3 linked regions of the Homo sapiens genome follow. The protein of the gene in region 1 purifies or fractionates together with the protein of each later gene. This does not show direct contact. Each region holds a gene or a part of one and is shown on either strand. Other genes may lie near its edges.

The links.
Region 2: the proteins of POC1A (region 1) and AKIP1 purify together in Homo sapiens (co-immunoprecipitation; 2 studies listed by BioGRID and IntAct, with this or other methods). This does not show direct contact.
Region 3: the proteins of POC1A (region 1) and TXNDC9 purify together in Homo sapiens (affinity purification with mass spectrometry; 2 studies listed by BioGRID and IntAct, with this or other methods). This does not show direct contact.

What each region holds. Positions count from the first base shown.
Region 1 is NC_000003.12:52,095,411-52,102,436, reverse strand, and holds part of POC1A (POC1 centriolar protein homolog A), read left to right. Parts: intron 1-5,724; coding exon 5,725-5,868; intron 5,869-7,026.
Region 2 is NC_000011.10:8,906,975-8,914,198, forward strand, and holds the start of AKIP1 (A-kinase-interacting protein 1), read left to right. Parts: upstream 1-4,214; 5' UTR 4,215-4,249; exon of another isoform or gene 4,250-4,469; 5' UTR 4,470-4,475; coding exon 4,476-4,697; intron 4,698-5,478; coding exon 5,479-5,559; intron 5,560-7,224. UniProt on the Homo sapiens protein: Enhances NF-kappa-B transcriptional activity by regulating the nuclear localization of the NF-kappa-B subunit RELA and promoting the phosphorylation of RELA by PRKACA.
Region 3 is NC_000002.12:99,319,324-99,326,349, reverse strand, and holds part of TXNDC9 (thioredoxin domain-containing protein 9), read left to right. Parts: intron 1-4,140; coding exon 4,141-4,395; intron 4,396-4,566; exon of another isoform or gene 4,567-5,224; intron 5,225-6,550; coding exon 6,551-6,668; 3' UTR 6,669-7,026. UniProt on the Homo sapiens protein: Significantly diminishes the chaperonin TCP1 complex ATPase activity, thus negatively impacts protein folding, including that of actin or tubulin.

The sequences.
Region 1 (7,026 bases):
GAGTTATGTAGCCATAAGCAAAGGAATTATGGAGCCACCAGAAGCTGAAAGAGGGAAGGCAGCATTCTCCCTTAGTGCCTCCAGAGGAAATGTGGCCCTGCCTTGATTCAGACTTCCAGAACTGTGAGAGAATTAATTTAGATTGTTTTACGCCATCAAATGTGACAATTTGTTACAGCAGCCCTAGGAAACTATTAATAATATATACTTCATGTTGTTTTGGTGCTATTGAAAAGATAATGGCCAAGAATTTTCAAAAAATAATGAAAGGCATCAAACCATAGTTCCAAGAAGCTCAGAGAAACAGCAAACAAGCTGGAGAAAAACAAAACAAAACAAAATCCTAGATGAGTTATATTCAAACTTCTGAAAACCAAGGATTAAGAAAGAAATCTTGAAGGTAGCCAGAGAAAAAAAGACATATATATGTGGATCAAATGTAAGAATTATGAAGAATTCTCGTGAAACTATACAAACTGAAAGAGTAACATCTTTAAAGTTTGAAAGAAAAACTGCCAACCCAAAGTTCTGTACTTAGCAAAAATATTTTAGCAATGATGGGGAAATAAGACCTTTTTTTCCCCTCCAGAAAAACCAAAGCTGACAATTTTTTACCAGCAAATTTGTATTATAAGAAATATCTAATTTCTCTCTCTTCTCCTTCTAGGATTCCAATTGTCCATGTGTTAGAGACAGTATTGTCTTGTAGCTTATGGAAGCTCTGTTCTGTTTTATCCCTCTGTGTTTCAGTTTGAGGAATTGATCTATCTTTAAGATCACTAATTTATTTTCCCATTGAGCCCATTATAGCCATACTTCTCTGTTACTGGGTTTCTTATTTCTGTTGTTTCCATTTGACTCTTTCTTATAATTTCTGCCTTTCTGCTGAAATTCTCCATTTGATCATGTGTGTTATTCAGTAGAGCCTTTACCATATTAATCATAGTTATTTTAAATTTTGTATCTCATAGTTTCAACATCTAGGTCATCTGAGTCTGCTTCTACTGACTGCTTTGTCTCTTGACAGTGGGGTTTTTTTTTCTCCCTGCCTTTTTGTGTCTCATAATGTTTTATTAAATGCCAGGCATCATGCTTAGGACAGTAAAGACTGAGGTAAATAGTCTTATCAGGAGTTGAGCTTAGTTTAGTGTTACCTAACGTACCTAGGATGAGGTCTGGTTGATGGAGGATTTTCTCAGTCATTTTCCTCACTCTCACCTTTCAGCCAGCCCTGTGGGCATGCCCCTCAGAGGGGCATGCTTTTTTCCATGTTCTTGGCCCTCCTCCCTAGATAGGCTGCTGTTGCTTATTGCTTGGTGCTTGATATTTTTTTTTTTTTTTTTTTTGCTGAGGGTTGGGGTGGGCCCTGTTGTCTTGACCCAGCTTCAGTCTTAAGCAGACTCTGTCTCCCTGGGTCTCAAAAGTGAGACATTCTTAGCGGTCCTGCTCCTTCCTCATTCAAAGGAGACCTTGATAATCTCAGCTCAGGATAGTTTCCTGCCTCTCCCTCAAGGGAAGAGGTGTTTTTATATTTGCTTTTCCCTAGTAGTTTCAGGATGCTCTTCTACAGGGGAGAGGTCCTGGCAGGGCTTCATACCTTTCCTTACTCACTCTCCTCTCCTAGGCCTGCACCTCCAAGAACGGTTTTCTTCCATCTACTGTTCTGCCCCCATTTTTTTTTGTCATGAAAGCCCAGTGGAGGTCTGTGGAGGAGAACCTGTGCATGGGTGCAAGCTCTACTTGTGTCTGTGGCACCTGGGGGTTCTGCACTCTTACCCTAGTCTGCGCTTGGTCTCCAGCAGTTTGTTAAAACTGTAACTTACCCACTCGTATGGTATTTGGCGTCTCTTCTCCTCATGCTTTGCCATAGGTGACCCACAGCTGATGCTCACTTTCTATTTTCCTTGGAAGTGTCTGTCTTTCCTTAGATTTCAGGCTACTGGTTGCTCTGTGACTTCAGCTCTCTGATTTAAGAGAAGTTATGATTCTTTTAGATTGTCAGTCTTTTTCTTGTTAGGAAGGAATTAACACTTTCCCCAGCTTTATATATCCTAGGCAGCAGCTCCTTATCCATACTTGTATCTTGATGGAAGAGGGAGATCACGGTCAATTCAGAGACCTCTCAAGAAGTCAACTCCAGATGGGTTGATTTCTTGTCACAAGGAAGATCTACAAGCTGTTTCTTTTGTTTTTAATGAAATGTTATGGTTTGGTTCCTCATGTGTCTGGGTAGCTGAGTATCAGCCACAGACATTTAGGCAATTCCTACTGTGTGTGAAGTGATGAGCTCCTGGTGGTGTATGAAAAGCAGGCAGCAGAGGAAACAGGAACTGAGGTGGGCAACACATTAACCAACTGTGAGAGGCCAGAGTCCCACCCCAGGGTGGCATGAGAGGAGACACCTGCAGACCCCAAGTGATATTTCCCAAAGTTAGAGCCATCTCTTGAGAGTCACCTTTTTTTGTTTTGGTATTAAGATGTTTATATTTGGCAAAAGTGAAATGTTGTTGAATTGGTGTAGGCCTATACGAGTATATGTGTGGATTAATCTTTGTTGTTATTTTAGTGAGCATTACTTTTTCTTTTGAGACGGAGTCTTGCTCTGTTGCCCAGGCTGGAGTGCAGTGGTGTGATCTCAGCTCATTGCAACCTCCACCTCCTGGGTTCAAGTGATTCTCCTGCCTCAGCCTCCCGAGTAGCTGGGATTACAGGTGCCTACCACCATGCCTGGCTGATTTTTGTATTTTTAGTAGAGATAGGGTTTCACCATATTGGCCAGGCTTGTCTTGAACTCCTGTCCTCAAGTGATCCACCTGCCTTGGCCTCCCAAAGTGGTTGGGTTACAGGTGTAAGTCACCGTGTCTGGCCTCTTTGTGTTATTTTATTCATGTTATACTTAACTGAGAACCACCAGGCAAAACCCCTAGGACTCTTTGATGTTGAACAGACAAAATGCTGATGTGACTTTTGCATTTAAATGCTGCTTGGGTTATTCTGCCACTGTCATTACTCATGGCTCTGGTACGACTGTCTCTTCCCACTCTTGTGTGTCATTTTCTTATCTCTGCTTTCTTGCTTATTTGCCCAGCTCTCAGGGAAATGCCACAGCTCCAGAGTGCTGGCATGCAGGTGAGTGGCTACAGAGCTGTGAGGGGTGGGGCTGCTGGCCCTTTGCTGCAGTGCAGACATTGGGGAGGATTCATTACACAGGAATTTTACCTCGGTGGGCCCTGCTCTTTGAGGTGTTGAGTGTTTGTGGAGGGCCTGCTCTGAGTTCAGCTCTGTGCTGGGCAATCATTCCAGGGCAGCTGGGTTGGGGAAGTGACGCAAAAAGCATTAGACCTAGGATTCAGAGGCCTCCATGGGGACGTTGGAGAGGAACTGTGCACATGGAAGCCCAGCTGCAGTCAATGTCACCTGCCAGAGGCTGTCTCATGTCCGGGAAGAGCCTGCACTTTGGGTTCAGATCCCAATTCTGTTATTTGCTGGGTAACTTAGAACAAGTTACTTAACCTCTTTGAGCCCAAGGGTCCATATCTGAAAAATAAGGTTAATAATGCCTATTGGGAAGGGCCATCATAAGGATGAAGTGAGGTTACACGTATTAAGTGAGGTGACATTAAATGAGGGCACACAGTGGATGGCAAGTAAACCATGGCGATTGCTGGACTGGTGGAGTGTTAAGTGCTGTGGTGTTTTCTGATGGGAGTGGGCAAGGAGGCAGGGAAATGGCTCAGGGCAGCACTAGAGTTTGAGGCTGGTTACCTTTAGACAGTCGTTTTCTGACTGAGCCTTAGTTCTCTTTATTGTCAAATGGAGACAGCCCATGAAAGTGTGGTATAGGTGGGAAAACATGGTGGCTGCCGCAACCCTCTGTTGTAAAGGCCACCTCTCCAGCTTGGAGTGCCATGGCCGCTGTCTTTAATACTCCCTTGGAGCTGGCTCAGCTTTGGCTCATCCAGGAGGGTTTCTATTGCTAAAGTCAGTGGTACTCACCCTGCCTCCCTGCAGCATCCACTGTGCTTCCAGAGGCTGAGCTCAGCACTGTCCATTTCTGGGCCATTCTGCAGAAACTCACATTTTCCATTCCCTCCTTCCTAAGCAGCCAGCAGCACCAGACTCTGGCCCATTCCATGACAATGCTGGCTGTGGGACAGAAGAGTTCCCTGCTCACACCCTTCCTCCAGTGGAAGAGTGTGTGTCTGCACTGCTAGGGGGTCCTCTGGAAGGAGTGGGCACAGCACTGAACATTTCTTAAGAAAGGCCTGCTGGTAGCTTCAGATAAGCACCTCTCACAGCCCAGCCGTTTGAAGGACTGGCCCAGTCTTCATCCCTATTTTATAGATGAGGAAATGGAGGCCCAGAGCTGGTCAGTGACTGTCTGAGTCACCATTCCTCACCACTGCACTCTGCTGTGTCTCCTGACAGAACTGCCTTAGTCTGGGGGCCACTGTGGTAGGCTGAAGTCTCTCCTGGCAAGGCTGGTGGACTTCTGAAATTTCCTTTTGGGATGGGCTTCTGGGTAAGCATTGAGATCTGAAGCACGTTGATTCCTGGAGGACTGGAAGAGACCCAGCCCTGATGGCCGAAGTCTTAGAAATGGCCACGGAAGTGGCCGACATGCTGATGATAGGTGTGTGGACACGGTGCTGCTCATGCTGTCAAGAACATCCCTCTGGCTCATGTCTCACATTCAAGTTCTCCTGTAGCTACCATGAGGGCCAGCATTTTTCCAAGTTCAAATCAGCATGCCCTTGAAAGTTTGTGATCTATGAGAATAGAATACTTACCTAATAAAGGAAAACATGCAGGTAGGGTCCATGTGCTGAACCACATTCCCACAGGAACAAGTCCACAGAGGAACTGCAGGCTCTAAGACCAGCCCTGCCCTTGGACATCCTTGGCTCCAGCATCCCGCCCACTGAACATGTGCACAGCACTTCTTCGGTCCACAGAAGCCTTTGTGCATAAGGCAAGGAGCTGACTTTGCTGAATTTAGGGGCTGAAGGGCCTTACGCAGAAACACTAAGCCCCTCACCTCCTGGAGTCCTATCTGAAGCAGCCCAGGGGTGCCTTTCCTGTGGAGTCTGATTCCTGCCAGCCATGTGCCAGCCTGGGACATGCACACAGAAATCTTTGTTTTTCCAGGGGATCTGGGCCAGGGTGGGGTTGGAACACCCCTCTCCCCGCCACACACACACTTCCACCAAGTTCTGGGCCACAGCTTCTTGGGCCTGGGAAAGGCATTTGTGAAGCCTGGCACACCCCCATGTTGAAGGGTGGGGAATTAGAGTTGAGCTGACCAGGAAGAGGAGGGACTTCAGGCCCAGGCCAGGCTTCAGCATCTCTGGACTCACCTGGATGCCTGCTGGTGGGTGCCAGCTGCTTGAAGATATGGGAGGCAGCTAGCTTCCCTGAGGGGCTCCAAGAGCAGGCTGAGGCCACTCACTGGCCTGCCTACCTGCCCTCCTCCCCAGGCCCCTTCCTGCCTGGATCACAAGGCATTCTGATTCCACTCCCCACTTAAGGCCTCTGCCTGGAAAGGTATGTGTGTGGACCCAGATGTGGGAACACCGCCACGCTGCTGTTTCTTACTGACACTTGGAGCTTACCTTCTCAAATTTGCTGGTGGTTTTCCCTTTCATCCTTTGGAGGGGCTATTCCTCTCACAGTATTTCTTCAAGCACTGGATAGACTGAGGAACTTTTTTCTTTCTGTCTTTAGCCAGAAGTGGACTTCCCTGTCCCCCCAGGCAGAGGCAGGAGTGTGGAGTCTGTGCAGAGCCAGCCCCAGGAGCCCGTGAGTGTGCCCCAGACACTGACTAGCACGCTGGAGCACATTGTGGGCCAGCTGGATGTCCTCACTCAGGTAGGCCACACTGTGGGTTCACCCGTCATCCCGTCATCTGCACTTGGTCCCGCATTTGGACCGTTTGAAGTTGGACAACAGGTGCTGGATTTTTAAAAACATAATTATAACGGACCTGTTTTCCAGTCCATATTAATGACATTGCAGAGCCTTCCCGGGGATCCTGGCTCTTGGAGCCATTCAAGCCCTGGCCAGACCACTAGACTCCAAAATCCCCAATGCTGGGTACTACTGGAGTGTGCTCACCTAGAGCTGGCCTGGGCCACTGAAGAGCTTTGAAAGAAACACTGTGTTTGTTTATTCCTCCCACTCTTTGCTGGATGGGCACTGCAGGGGCATGCCAGGGAACTGAGTAGTGAGTCAGGGCTTCTGAGAACCTAGGCTATGAGTTTGAGCCTGGACCTTTCCTTATCCTCTGTGCAACCTTGGGGAAATCCCTTTAGTTCACCAAGCCCTGGTATGTTTATCTGTAATGTGCTGGTGGTTGTGGGCTCTGCCTGCCACATTCATGGTGAGAATTAAGGGAGATGAATCTGGGAAATGTTTGGCCCATGCCTGGCCCTAGGTAGCTGCTCAATAAATGTTAGTTGTGGCCCTGACCACCCTCGTCACTGAGATGGATATGGGCCCTGCCCTCTGGAGCGTAGGTTGGCAGCCATAACACAGGCTCGTAGTGTAGCAGTTTCAGTAAGAGCAAAATCCCTTGACAAGAGGTGGTGGCCAGCAATAGGGGCATGCTTGGCAGGGCCATTTCACCCGAGGGAGGAAGAGAGGTCCTGGCTGCCTGTGGCTCTGGAGAGGCCATGGGCACGTCCAGGGAATGAGTGAAGCTCCAGGTGGCTGTCATGTGGATATGTGGTCTTGGGGTGGGGGGCAAGGCAGGATTTAGAGGTTCCCCAATTCCTCATCTCCTTGGCTCTTGAGGCCAGGCTGGGACTCTGCAGATCCTCCTCTACCATGCCAGCACATGGGTAGAGCGAGGCTGCAAGAGGGACACATGTGGCCCACGAGGAAAAGAGGTGTTAAAGCCAGGGGGTGGGGGATGGGGAAGCAAGGAAGAGTGGTCTCCAGTCCAGCTCACATGAAGGACGCAAAGGACCCTTGATGTCACTAACGGAAATGGAGCTGAGATGGCATGGTATCCTTTCCCCAGCTTGG
Region 2 (7,224 bases), on another chromosome or scaffold:
TTTTTAACCCTTTTTGGCCCCCTTCACATAAAGAAAAGGAATTTACATTGCTCTTCACTGGACTTGTTTTTTCTCCTCAAAAAGTCCCAAATACAGCACCAGTCTCTTTCCCCATTTCACAATTAAAGACCTCTTCCAACGCATCTCCTCCAAAACATAGAACCCTGACAACTAACTTTCATCTGTTCTCATTAGTGAATTTACCCTTGTGAAGATAGAAGTCATTAAAAACTCATATCAATAGTTTATTTTTCTGTCAATACTGACAGTCTATTTCCCTGTTGACCAGGCACATTCCTAATTAGTTGCCCTCTCTCCATTTACAATTCCATTTTCAGTTCTCACCAGTGGCTTTCATTTGGCGTGGGCTATATTTGATCCACAAGGGGCCTGATGGTAGGTCATGTTCTATCATTATTCCCAGCCAATCTTAAAAAAGATAAAAAGGAATCTCTCAAGTCTCTCAATCTGTGGTTTACAGGATGAATCTTTAAAATTATAAATATGCACATATAAAAATATATTTACAAATATATTTACAAATAGAAAAATAAAAACAAATGCAAAGATTTAATTTAGAGTCTTTTGGTTTCAGTTTCATTTCAAGCATCTTCTTTCCCATAAATTTCTAAATGTTAAATTCTGAGAAAATGTAGTTACAATTGAATATTCATTACATTCATTAAAGTTCATGTAGGTAGGTGTTTTTTTAATAGAAAAGCCAACTCTTTTTTTTCTTAAGATAGGTTCTTACTCTGTTGCCCCGGCTGGAGGGCAGTGGCACGATCATAGCTCACTGCAGCCTCAACATCCTGGACTCAAGCAATCCTCCCATCTCAACCTCCCGAGTAGCTAGGACTACAGGTATGAGCCACCATGCCAGGCTAGTTTTTTAATTTTTTAAAAAATAGAGACAGGGGTCTCACTATGTTGCCCAGGCTGCTGTCAAACTCCTGGCCTCAAGTAATCCTTCCACCTCAACCTCCTGAACTTCTGGGATTACAGGTGTGAGCCACCACAAAGCCACCTCTTTATGTGGGCTAACAGAAGTCTATTTAACTTAAAAATTAAATCAGAGTAATTTCAACAAATGGCTACTGAACACCCGCTACTTAACAGGTCCTGGAATGTTTAGGGACAAATAAGGAACAGTTTCTGCCTTCAAGGAATTGAAAGGCTATTGGGAGAGAAGAAACCATAACTACACATAATTTAAATTAGATTGGAAAAGTACACACAAAAAATTTTTTTAAGGCTATGGCAACAGAGGTGGCAACTGGGAACCACTGGGAAAAGTTTCAAAGAGCTGACCTGACAAAAAGAAAGTAGTGCCTCAACTGGAATGACTAAAATAGAATGGGGAAGAGAGACAAATGAGATGAGGTGTGGCTATGATACTGGGTAAGTGAGAGCATATTTTGGGAGACCAGGCTGAAGCTTAAGATAATAATACTAGCTAATATTTATTGAGCACCTACTATGTACCAAGTACTATAAATGCACTTTATAGATATTAACTTACTTGATATTCACAATAACCCTATGAGGAATGTGCTAAAACCTTGAAATCCATAAAAAATAAAGAGGACCAAATTCTGTCCCACTCCAACCACACTTATTGTAAAAGCAGTTAACGGGTATCTTATCTACCTCTTCTCTCACTGATTCCTAGGCCATCAGGCCTAGCTTGAAAACTACATTCTCTGCAAAACCTTTCTTGATCCTCCCAGCTGAACATAGTCTCCTAAGCTTGATAGCATTTTATCTGTGTCAATCTTATGGCATGTCCGAATATTTTGTTCTTGGTATTATAGATTTTATGTGCATTCTTTCCTCTTTTTTATTCTCCTTTAGTCTGATCCACATTCTGTTCTCCACAACTCCTAGGGCAGTGCCTGGCACATACTAATGCTAGCTAAGTCTATGGAGCACTTATCTTTGCCGGGCACTGTGCTAAGCATTTTACAGGAATTATCTCACAGAATCCTAATGGCAACCCAATTCACACATTCAAGGGCTATTTTTAGTCCTTACTGTGACAGACAAAATAGTAAATACTAGATGCACCTTAAACTCTAAACACTACAGATACAGTCCCTTCCCTCAAGAAGCTCAGTCTAAAGAAGTTAGTACTATTGGAATCCCCAGATATAGAGATGAGGAAAAGTGAGGCTCAAAGAAGTAATATGTTTGCCCAGAACCACAGAGCAAAAAAGTGGCAGAGAGCCTGGGCAACATAGGGAGACCCTGTCTCTACGAAACATTTAAAAAATTTGCAGGGCGTGGTGGCTGAAGAAGAGGATCGCTTGAGCCCAGGAGGTCGAGGCTGCAGTGAGCCGAGATCGTGCCACTGCACTTCAGCCTGGCTGACAGGGTGATACCCTCGTTTCTTTATTAAACAAAAAAGAAGAAGAAGGAAGAAGGAAGAAGAGGAAGAAGAGGAAGAGGAAGGAGGAGGAGGAGGAAGAAGGAGAAGGAGAAGGAGAAGGAGAAGAAATGGAAAAAAAAAGATGGCAGAGCCAGAATTCAAACCAGCTCTCCCGAGTGGATATACAGGACCCCATGCACGTACAACCACTATGTTCTAAAGGAGGCACTTGATAAACCCTTATTGAAGGAAATGTTTTGGAATACCAATAAAATGAAAAAAAAATCATCTCAAGAATAATGTAGGGTTTCACTCACTGTTATTCTTTTTTATAAGGGGAAAGCAGGAAATTTGCAAAAGTTAAGTAGCATAGAAGGAGGTCGTATTGGTCGGCTACTACTCACCTGGTACCTGATAATTGCTCATCAAGCCATCTGTTGAGACTAGGTGAGGATGGAGTTTCTCTCCTTTTTCATGAACCACAGAGGAGACTTAAAGGAGGATTTATTTGTGTTCCTTAAAGTGACCCCCACTGAGCGTGTCCCTCAAAGTGGACCTTCCTAAGCATCGGCGCTTTGCTTTGCGCTGGGTGGTGCGGCTGAGTCACTAATTAGCAGTGAGAGCCTGGGCTGTATCTCCTACCAAATAACCAGCGGAGTGGAGTGACAGGTCCTTACTTAAACATGGTTTAAGTAAGCATTCACAGTTCCTTACTTAAACATGGTGCAGTCTTCCTAAAAGATGGAGTCAGACCCCAAGAGAACAGGTCTCCAAAAATATGTGAATCCGTACTTCCCACTGGAGGGGAGAGAGAGCTGCGCTGAGGGATTATGAGAGACCCTACAACTTCTCAGGCGCCCCCTGCCCCGGGGGCCAGGAACATCTGCAGACAGCCCCGCCTCCGTCTCGCCTCAATCCCGAGCTGTTCCCTTCTCCAAAGGCCACCTTGGCAGCCACACAGTTTGGCCTAATCACCTCCTCAAACAAGAGTAGCGACACCCCAAAATGTAGACCAAGCAGAAAGAGGCGCGGGAGGCACTTGCCTTATTCCCCATGATGTTTTTGTTTTGAGACGAAGTCTTCCTCTGTCGCCCAGGCTGGAGTGCAGTGGCGCGATCTCGTCTCACTGCAACCTCCGCTTCCCGGGTTCAAGCGATCCTCCCACCTCGACCCTCCCGAGTACCTGGGACTACAGATGCGCGCCACCACTCCTCCTACTGTGTGTGTGTGTGGACACGGGTTGTCGCTATGTTGCCTACCTAGCTGGTACCCCATAACCACTCCTGGCTAGTGTGTGTGTGTGTGTGTGGACACGGGTTGTCGCTATGTTGCCTACCTAGCTGGTACCCCATAACCACTCCTGGCTAGTGTGTGTGTGTGTGTGTGTGTGTGTGTCTACACGGGTTCTCGCTATGTTGCCTACCTAGCTGGTACCCCATAATTTTTTAGCTCAACAGGAGACCTGCCTTTATACCCACCAAGTTAAGCAGCGCAGTAGCCCTCTAAGGGCCAGCCCCACGCCCAGAGGCTCCTCTGACAGCGTGGACAGATGCCCTGGGCTGCTGGCTCGACTCAGTCCTCAGCCCCCAGCCCCCGACCCCCGACCCCCGGCCCCCGACCCCCGACCCCCGGCCCCCAGCGCCCGGCGCCCCGCCTCCAGCGCTCAGCAGTTAACCAGGCAACTCGCGCGCAGACGCCAAGGCTGGGACGCAGAAGGCGTGTTTGGCCGCCCAGCCGCCCCGCCTCCCCCACTTCTCCCGCCTCTCCCGCCTCTCCCGCCTTCCGCCAATGGCCCAGCTGCGCCGGCGCCGCCGGGAGCGCTAGGCCTGGTCCCTCTTCCTAGAATAGCGTTGCGCGCATGCGCCTTGACGAGTGAGCCGGGTGAGGGGGCTCCCTAAGTAGCGGAAGGGGTAGATGAAAATGGAAGGGGCGGGCGCGCTAGGCCTAGTCCTGGCTGGGCTCCCGCTGGAGTGTGCGTTGGGGGCGGACCAGGAGCGGTGGTCTCCAGGGAGGTCGAGGCTGGGGCTCCCACCCGGATTTGGAGCAGGGTCGCCGCGGCCCAGCTGACCCGCCGGCGTTTGTACGTTGTGTGCCCACTCAGGGAGCCATGGACAACTGTTTGGCGGCCGCAGCGCTGAATGGGGTGGACCGACGTTCCCTGCAGCGTTCAGCAAGGCTGGCTCTAGAAGTGCTGGAGAGGGCCAAGAGGAGGGCGGTGGACTGGCATGCCCTGGAGCGTCCCAAAGGCTGCATGGGGGTCCTTGCCCGGGAGGCGCCCCACCTAGAGAAACAGCCGGCAGCCGGCCCGCAGCGCGTTCTCCCGGGAGAGGTGAGGGTCGCTGTGCCGGGGGCCGCCCCAGTCCTTCGCGCCGCGGTAGCCCGCTGGGAGCCAGGGGTGCGCAGCGCAGAAGCAGCTGAGGAAACCTTCCCTTAGCGGAAGCTGGAAAGGATCAGAACAATGAATGGAAAAGTCCTTTCAAAACGCTTTACATTTGACAGATTCTTGTTGGGTAGCTGTAGAATAACGGTAGTGTTCAGCCCTGGTTGGTTACTTAAAAAAAAAAAAAAAAATTAGCCGGGCGCGGTGGCTCATGCCTGCAATCCCAGCACTTTGGGAGGCCGAGGCGGGCGGATCACCTGAGGTCGGGAGTTCGAAAGCAGCCTGACCAACATGGAGAAATCCCGTCTCTACTAAAAATACAAAATTAGCCGGGCGTGGTGGCGCATGTCTGTAATCCCAGGTACTAGGGAGGCTGAGGCAGGAGAATCGCTTGAACCCGGGAGGCGGAGGTCGCGGTGAGCCGAGATCGCGCCATTGCACTCCAGCCTGGGCAACAAGAGCGAAACCTCCGTCTCAAAAAAAAAAAAAAAAAAAAAATCTTACAGCTATCATCTGATAGTAGAGGAAAGCCTGCAAGCCTGTCTCTTAGATCCTGGATAAATTGCATGTCTATCTTTTAGAGTTGGAATTCTTTCTCAATAACATCGTTCTTTCTGACATAAACTTGCAGAGCCTTTCCAAAAGTAAAAAGGAGACTATTTCCAAAATGGCTTCATTCTCCAGTAGGGAATCCTAGAGCTAACCTGTGACGTGCCATTTATTCAAATAGAGAGAAGAGAGACCCCCAACCCTTAGTGCTTCCTTCAGAACAATGGCTGAATTCATGGACTATACTTCAAGTCAGTGTGGGGTAAGTTGGTGTGAACCAAAACTATGCCCCATCACCTGCTGATGGACCACATTTGGATCTTTCTGGAATTTACGGAGAATCTGGACACTACCTGTTTCTCCTGCCCAGCCTTCACGGTCAGATTGTAATCAGTCAAGGACTTAAACCAGGGGGTAAATCCAAGTTAGAATTCACCCAATAAATGTTTATTGAATGCCTAACCCTGTAGCTGACAATATAGCAATGAAAAGTCAGAAAAGGTCTTCTGCCCTCAGTGATCTTTCAGTCTAGTGGGGGGAAAATAGCTTATTTGCCGAATTTCATAGCAAATAAGTTAAATATTAGGGGTTTTTTTTAACTTTTTTTTTTTTTTTTTTTTTGAGACAGAGGCTTGCTCTGTGGCACAGGCTGGAGTGCAGTGGTGTGATCTCGGCTCACTGCAAGCTCTCCCTCCTGGGTTCACACCATTCTCCTGCCTCAGCCTCCCTAGTAGCTGGGACTACAGGCGCCCACCACCACGCCCAGCTAATTTTTTTTTTTGTATTTTTAGTAGAGACGGGGTTTCACTGTGTTACCCAGGATGGTCTCCATCTCCTGACCTCGTGATCCGCCCGCCTCAGCCTCCCAAAGTGCTGGGATTACAGGTGTGAGCCACCGTGCCCGACCTTTTTTTTTTTTTTTTAATTGAGACAGAGTCTCACTCCATCACCCAGGCTGGTGTGCAGTGGCTCAGTCTCGGCTCACTGCAACCCCTACCTCCTGGCCTCCTGGTTCAAGCGATTCTCCTGCCTCAGCCTCCCGAGTAGCTGGGACTACAGGCACATGCCACCATGCCTGGCTAATTTTTGTATTTTTAGTAGAGACAGGGCTTCACCATGTTGGCCAGGCTGCTCTGGAACGCCTGACCTCGAGGGATCCGCGCATCTTGGCCTCCCAAAGTGCTGGGATTACAGGCTTGAGCCACCATACCCAGCCAAGTCATCTTTCGATACTTAGGGAATGTTGAGGGCAGGCCAGAAAACATTCAAGGAAATTACCTGCATGGAAGGCACTGTCTTCTAGGAATTACAGCAGGCTCTGGCCTCATGCAGTCTTAACACTTGGTGAGTCCTACATGGTTTTAAGGAGGCTGATCCACAAAGGAGATGGAAGAGAATACCTTGTTTCTGCCCTGCTTTTCAGTTTCATATGTTAAGATCTCAAAAAACTCTAATCTTTCTACATCTTTTATAAGAATCCCTGACTCCAAGAATAGGATTCCAACCAAAGAGGAATACTTCAGGGAATATTTTTATCTTATTTGTGTTGTTCAGTGGTTTTACAAAAATCAATAGCCTCAACTCTACTGTAAAGTGATTAAACCCTTGGTTCATGGTTCAGCAAAAGGAATAATATTTGTCTTTGGTTTGAGGTTTAGCAAATTGCTGTTCTTCATTTTTGTTTTCAGTTCATGCTTCAGTTCAAGTCTCTGTTATGAAATGGAGCCTCAGAACCTCTTGGCTTTCTAGAGATAGAATTAAGAATTGTGTACTGGGTTTGTCTCCACAGTTTGAAGCAGCCACTAAAACACATCTTTAGGTCTGTGTCCTCAAGTGCTTTCCCCAGCTTCTCGTTCTTCTGGTCACATGTTTTTTAGACAGTGTGCCTACCCTGTTCAAAACAAGCAGGGCTGTGATGTCATTAGTC
Region 3 (7,026 bases), on another chromosome or scaffold:
CTTCTTGCCCCTTTGTCTTGATCTCACAACCCAACAGCTTCATTGTTAGTTAACACCTTTCAAGAATTGATTGCCTGGTATTCATTGACTAAGAGAATAAAAATGAAACAAAATATTGAGATGGTGAAATCCCTTGTGAGGAACAGTGAGAGAAGGGATTAGGCAGGTAGAAAGGTATCAGAGAAACCTCTGCCCTTATGGTACACAACCATCTCGCATTGGCACACATTCCTCAAGTTGCCAACCTCTGACAAATATGATGAGGTGATATATAAATATACTAGTATGTAAAATATTATTTGTCCACTTGTTTTTTTTTTGTTGTTTTTTTTTGTTTTTGAGACAGAGTCTTACACTGTCACCCAGGCTAGAGTGCAATGGCAGGATCTTGGCTCACTCCAACCTCCACCTCCCGGGTTCAAGTGATTCTCCTGCCTCAGCCTCCCGAGTAGCCAGGGCTACAGTCACCCACCACTACACCCGGCTAACTTTTGTCTTTTTAGTAGAGACAGGGTTTCTCCAGATTGGCCAGGCTGGTCTCAAACTCTTGACCTCAGGTGAACCACCCACCTTGGCCTCCCAAAGTGTTGGGATTACAAGTATGAGCCACGGCACCCGGCCTCACTTGTTTTTTTTATGTCTTTCCCAACTAGATTGTTCGTTTTGTAGAGGCAGCGCATTTGCCTGTATTGTGACCTACTGTTCTCTGGGATCATAGCCCTAAAGCAACTGCCTGACGCATAGTAGGTGGTCAATAAATACATTTGATGGTGTATAAACAGTGCATCACCAGGAGTACTCACCTTCAAACAGAACTGAAAAATCAAAATCATCCAGTGAACTTTATATATTAGCAAAGTTCCTAGCACATAGTAGGCAGGATGCTTTCATGTATATTATCCCTAGAACATTCACAATAATCTTCAGAGGCACTTATTATTATTCCTGTATTTCATGTATGGAAACCAAGATTTGGAGAAATTGACTCACCTAGTATCACTCAGATACTAAATGATAAAAAAAAGAGAGAGATTGGAACCCATGTTTTAAGCCTATTGCTATTTTTTTAATTTTTAACTTTTGTGGGTAGTAGTAGGTAAATATGGGGTACATGAGATATTTTAACACAGGCATGCAGTGTTTAATAATCACATCAGGGTAAATGGAATATCCATCACCTCAAGCTTTTATCCTTTGTGTTATAAACAATCTAATTATGCTCTTTTAGTTATTTTTAAACATACGTAAAGGCCTATAGCTATTTATACCATGACTGTTGTTTTGGATTTTTAAAAATTGATTGACGGGTTGGGCGCCATGGCTCATGCCTGTAATCCCAGTACTTTGGGAGGCTGAGGCAGGTGGATCATGAGGTCAGGAGATCAAGGCCATCCTGGCCAACATGGTGAAAACCCATCTCTACTAAAATACAAAAAGTTAGCTGGGCATGGTGGCTCGTGCCTGTAGTCCCAGTTGTGCAGGAGGCTGAGGCAGGGGAATTGCTTGAACCTGGGAGGCGGAGGTTGCATTGAGCTGAGATCGTGCCACTGCACTCCAGCCTGGCAACAGAGCAAGACACTCTGTCTTGCTCTTTAAATACAAATTAAAATTAGCCAGGCAATGGTGCGGGTGCCTGTAATCCTAGCTTCTTAGGAGGCTGAGCCAGGAGAATTGCTTGAACCCAGGAGGTGGAGGTTGCAGTGAGCAGAGGTCGTGCCACTGCACTCTAGCCTGGGCGACAGAGCGAGACTCCATCTCAAAAAAAAAATACGTTCCTTACTGCAGTTAAAGTATGGAGTTGATTTATTTACAAATTTTCAGGAACATATTTCTCATATAAAGGTTGATTTATCATTTGTTTTGAGCTTTATTTAAAAACCATTTATTAATTTGTTCTCTCTTACCATTTTTCACTGAAATCTCGTTACTGAACTACATGAGTAACATATGAAAAAACATATCCGGGGAAAAAGTGATGAGGCACCAAGGTTACACATAACTTATGTTAGAGCCAAACTTAGTTCAGGAAAAACTACATCAAGTGCACAAAAAGCTTACTGGTAAAAATAACCATGAAGTATTTTGTGTGTGAGTCATCTAGAGGTAGTTCTCAAGCTTTATTTGAGCATAAGAACAGCTGTATGTTTCCCAACTCCACTGCCAGAGAATTTTGATTCATCTGGATATTTTAAAAGTTGACGGCAGGCTGGGTGTGGTAGCTCACACCTCTAATCCCAGCACTTTGGGAGGCTGAGGCAGGTGGATTGCTTGAGGTCAGCAGTTCAAGACCAGCCTAGTCAACATGGTGAAACCCCATCGCTACTAAAAATACAAAAATTAGCCGGGCGTGGTGGCAGGTGCCTGTAATCCCAGCTACTCGGGAGGCTGAGGAAGGAGAATCGATTGAACCCAGGAGGCAGAGATTACAGTGAGCCGAGATCGCGCCACTGCACTGCAGCCTGGGTGACAGAGTGAGAGTCCAACTCAAAAAAGATGAATAAATAAAAGTTGATCATAATGAACACCTGGGGTTAAGAACCACCGGTCTAAAAGATTGTTACAATAGTCTGTTTTAGAAACACTCGTGAATTGGCCAGTTGAAAATGAATTTTTTGAGACAGAGTCTTACTCTGTCGCCTAGCCTGGAGTGCAGTGGTGTAATCTTAGCTCACTGTAACCCCCACCTCCCAGGTTCAAGTGATTCTCGTGCCTCAGCCTCCTGTGTAGCTGGGATTTCAGGTGCCCATCATGACGCCCAGCTAATTTTTGTATTTTTAGTAGAGATGGGGTTTCACCATATTGACCAGGCTGGTCTTGAACTCTTGGCCTCAAGTGATCTGCCCGCCTCAGCCTCCCAAAGTGTTGGGATTACAGGCGTGAGCCACTGCATCAGGCCAGAAAATAAATTTTAATGTAAAGAAGATGTCACTTTTTTTGTTTGTTGAGATGGAGTCTCACTATGTTGCCCAGGTTGGAGTACAACGGCACAGTTTCGGCTCACTGCAGCCTCCACCTCCCAGGTTCAAGTGATTCTCCTGCCTCAGCCTCCCAAGTAGCTGGGACTACAGGCATGCACCACCACACCCAGCTAATTTTTGTATTTTTAGTAGAGACAGGGTTTCACCGTGTTGGCTAAGCTGGTCTCAAACTACTGACTTCAAGTGATCCGCCTGCCTCAGCCTCCCAAAGTGCCAAGATTACAGATGTGAGCCACCGCACCTGGCCAAGAAAATCTCACTTCTGTTTCCGTCTTCATTGGAAGATGGCTTAATAAAAGTTACTACTGGTAGGCTGGGTGCAGTGGCTCACGCTTGTAATCCTAGCACTTCGGGAGGCCGAGGCAGGCGGATCACAAGGTCAGGAGATCAAGACCATCCTGGCTAACACAGTGAAACCCCGTCTCTACTAAAAATACAAAAAATTAGCCGGGCATGGTGGCAGGCGCCTGTAGTCCCAGCTACTTGGGAGGCTGAGGCAGGAGAATGGCATGAACCAGGGAGGCGGAGCTTGCAGTGAGCCGAGCTTGTGCCACTGCACTCCAGCCTGGGGGACAGGGCAATACGCCACCTCCAAAAAAATAAAAAATAAAAAAGTTACTACTGGTATTTTTTAATTTCCTAGAAGCATAATGGCCACATTTATTTAAATATTATTAGTAACCCTTAGCCTTAATGTGCTTCTTACTGACAGCGTTGCATATTTAGGAGTAAGAAGTTTTTCCTCGGTAATGCTGTTCAGTTTTTCTTCATGACTTCCAAATATGGCACCATGTGTGCACTTCTGATTCTTGTAAGTCTCTTCCGAGTTTTGTCAAGTTTCAGTTTGTTCCTCTTCAAGTTTCCTGTGTAGGAGATAGGACAACTTCCTTTATGACTTAAAGCATATATTTAATATTTTAAAAGAGAATATCATTAATGCAAATCTGACTTTCTAGAATCTTATAGGCTGTTTTCCCATCTCGTAATCAGGCAGCTAACCTCTGATCTGGAAGTGAGGTCATCTGACACAAGTTTAAGTTGGCTGCCATGTTATGAGAGTCAACAGAAAAACTACATAATTAGATTTCCCTTGATGATATTTATTTTGAAAAAAGCGATCTGTGGTTTTAGCTTATAATTTTCTATGTGTGGTCACTTACAGGTGTAAAATACTAGACAGACATCTGGCAATATTGTCCAAGAAACACCTCGAGACCAAATTTTTGAAGCTGAATGTGGAAAAAGCACCTTTCCTTTGTGAGAGACTGCATATCAAAGTCATTCCCACACTAGCACTGCTAAAAGATGGGAAAACACAAGATTATGTTGTTGGGTTTACTGACCTAGGAAATACAGATGACTTCACCACAGAAACTTTAGAATGGAGGCTCGGTTCTTCTGACATTCTTAATTACAGGTAACTTTTAACAAAAGAAGAGATTGATTTTAATTCATATATAGTTGATATTTTTACAAAAGATTTTTGTATTGTAACATTTATTTTATGAAATTAAGGCATTTTGGCTGAGATGTGGAAAGTTTCTCAAAGGAAAAGCATGTTTTTTTGAAGTGTGTAATATTAGCGTGATTTTACGGCAAAATCAGATTTACAGATTAAACTGATTTAATAGGTAAAACTGAGTCTCACCGTACTCCTGACTATAAAAGTTTTCAGCTTAACGTATACTATTGACACTAATTTTGTATTAATCTGGAAACTTAAAATGGCAATCCAGTGTTGACTATTCCCCAATTTAAGCCAGATTGCTCAAATGAATTCTGACTTAAGTGATTCTCTTTGATAAAATAAAAATTAAAAGCAGACTCTTGCAAAGAAAGTTATATTTTAAAATACTAGATTTTTAACATGGATATTTCTGTTTTACTTATAGAGGCTGATGAATAGAAAAAGGTTTCTATGCCTAGCTTACATTGCTTGCTATGAAGAACAGTTTTAGTTTGAAAACAATCTAAAATCCAACTTCCATTTCTTTGTCCACTTCTTCAGACAAATAATTTATCTAATTCCACAAATCAGAGCATATCATCTTGTCTTTTTTGCCTTTTCTTGATTTGCAAAAGTAACAGGTAAAATTGTGCACTTACCATTCCAGAGTCATGGTGCCTTTCAGGAAGTAGAAGGTTCTCTCACGTTTTTCTTTCTCCCCCATTTCCCTCCCGTCTTTTCTCTGACTCTCCTAGACATGCCGAAATCATTCCTATGTTGTAGAAATTGGTTTCATTTCCTTAATATTAACATAAAATATTAATATTTATTAAATAAAGTTATATATTTTGAAGTAATTTTAAGCCTTAAACAAATTGCAGCCGGGTGGGGCACTTGTGTAATCTCAGAAGATTACAGACTTTGAGAGGCTGAGGTGGGAGAATCAGTTGAGGCCAGGAGTTTGAGACCAATTTGGGCAACATATAGTGAGATGAGACCTCGTCTCTACAAAAAACTAGTAGAAACAACCCCCTGCAGACTAGTACAACGAATCCTCATTGACCCTTTGCCCATATTACCCAATTTTAAACATTTTATATTTGTTTTATCATTGTCTTTATAGATACTATGAAGTATTTTGGGAACCATTTGAGTGGAAATTGTGAATACAGTGTCCCTTTACTCCTAAAGACTTCCATATATATTTTCTAAGAACAAGAACATTTTCTTACGTAGCGACAGTACAATTATTGAAACAGGAATTATTGTGTAATTTACCGCTCTTATTTCAAGTTTTCTCATTGTCCCAATAATTGTCCTTCATACCAAAAATGCAGCACATTTAGTTATTACGTCTTTAGTTACCATTGTTATTCTTTGGTTCTTAAGACTGATGTTTTTGAAGAGTACAAACTGTTTATTTTGGAGAACATCTCCCAGTTTGGGTTTGTCTTAAATTTCCTCAAGATTAGATTCAGATTATCGATTTTTGACGGGCATATTATGGAAGTGATGCATCATATCGGGAGGTGTGTGATGGTTTCTCTCATTTCCGGTGACAACTGAGCACTGTGTTAACCAAATGTTAATCCATAATTAATGATAAAAAGGAAAATAGGTCTGGTGCAGTGGCTCATACCTATAATCCCAGCACTTTGGGATGCCAAAGCAGGAGGATTGCTTGAGCCTAAGAGTTCAAGACAAGCCTGGGCAATGTAGTGAGATGTCATCACTACAAAAAATGTAAAAATTAACTGAGCATGGTGGCACACGCCTGTAGTCCAAGCTACTCGGGAGGCTGAGGTGGGAGGATCGCTTGAGCCCAGGAACTGGAGGTTGCAGTGAGCTGTGATCACACCACTGCACATCAGCCTGGGCCACAGAGTGAGACCCTGTCTCAAAAAGAAAGGAAAATAAAATTGATCTAAAACATTCAGTAGGACACAATAAGGTTTAAGGCTATTAACCATCAATATCAATATAAGCATTATACCTCTTCCCTGACACCAGCATTTTAAAGAAATTTTATTCTATGTTACAGGAAGAAAACAAAGATAGATTTTTGTGCAGTTTAGTATACTAGTACTAAATCATAAAGAATAAAATGCTTTTTTTTTTTTTTAAGTGGAAATTTAATGGAGCCACCATTTCAGAACCAAAAGAAATTTGGAACAAACTTCACAAAGCTGGAAAAGAAAACTATCCGAGGAAAGAAATATGATTCAGACTCTGATGATGATTAGAGCTCAATAATTCTTTGTAAATTGTCTTTTTTTTTCTGCTTCAGATTTAAATGTGTTTTTAAAATTCTATTAATGTCTATACATTGGTCACCTAAATACTCATATTCTCGAGTTTTATACAGTTGTATCACATCGAAAAGTGTCTTTACTGTTTTCTGTGTGGCCATCATGTTTAAGTTGAGGAAAACTCAGTTCTTAAATTATCTGGGAAGGGTCTGGATTCTCTATTTTTGAGATTGACTTTATCACAATATGATTCTTACATCTTTATACCATTTACAATTGTGTTTTAGATCTACAGAGTTAGAAATTCGAAAACTATTCCAGGACTAATTCTTAATCGGCATTATTTATACAA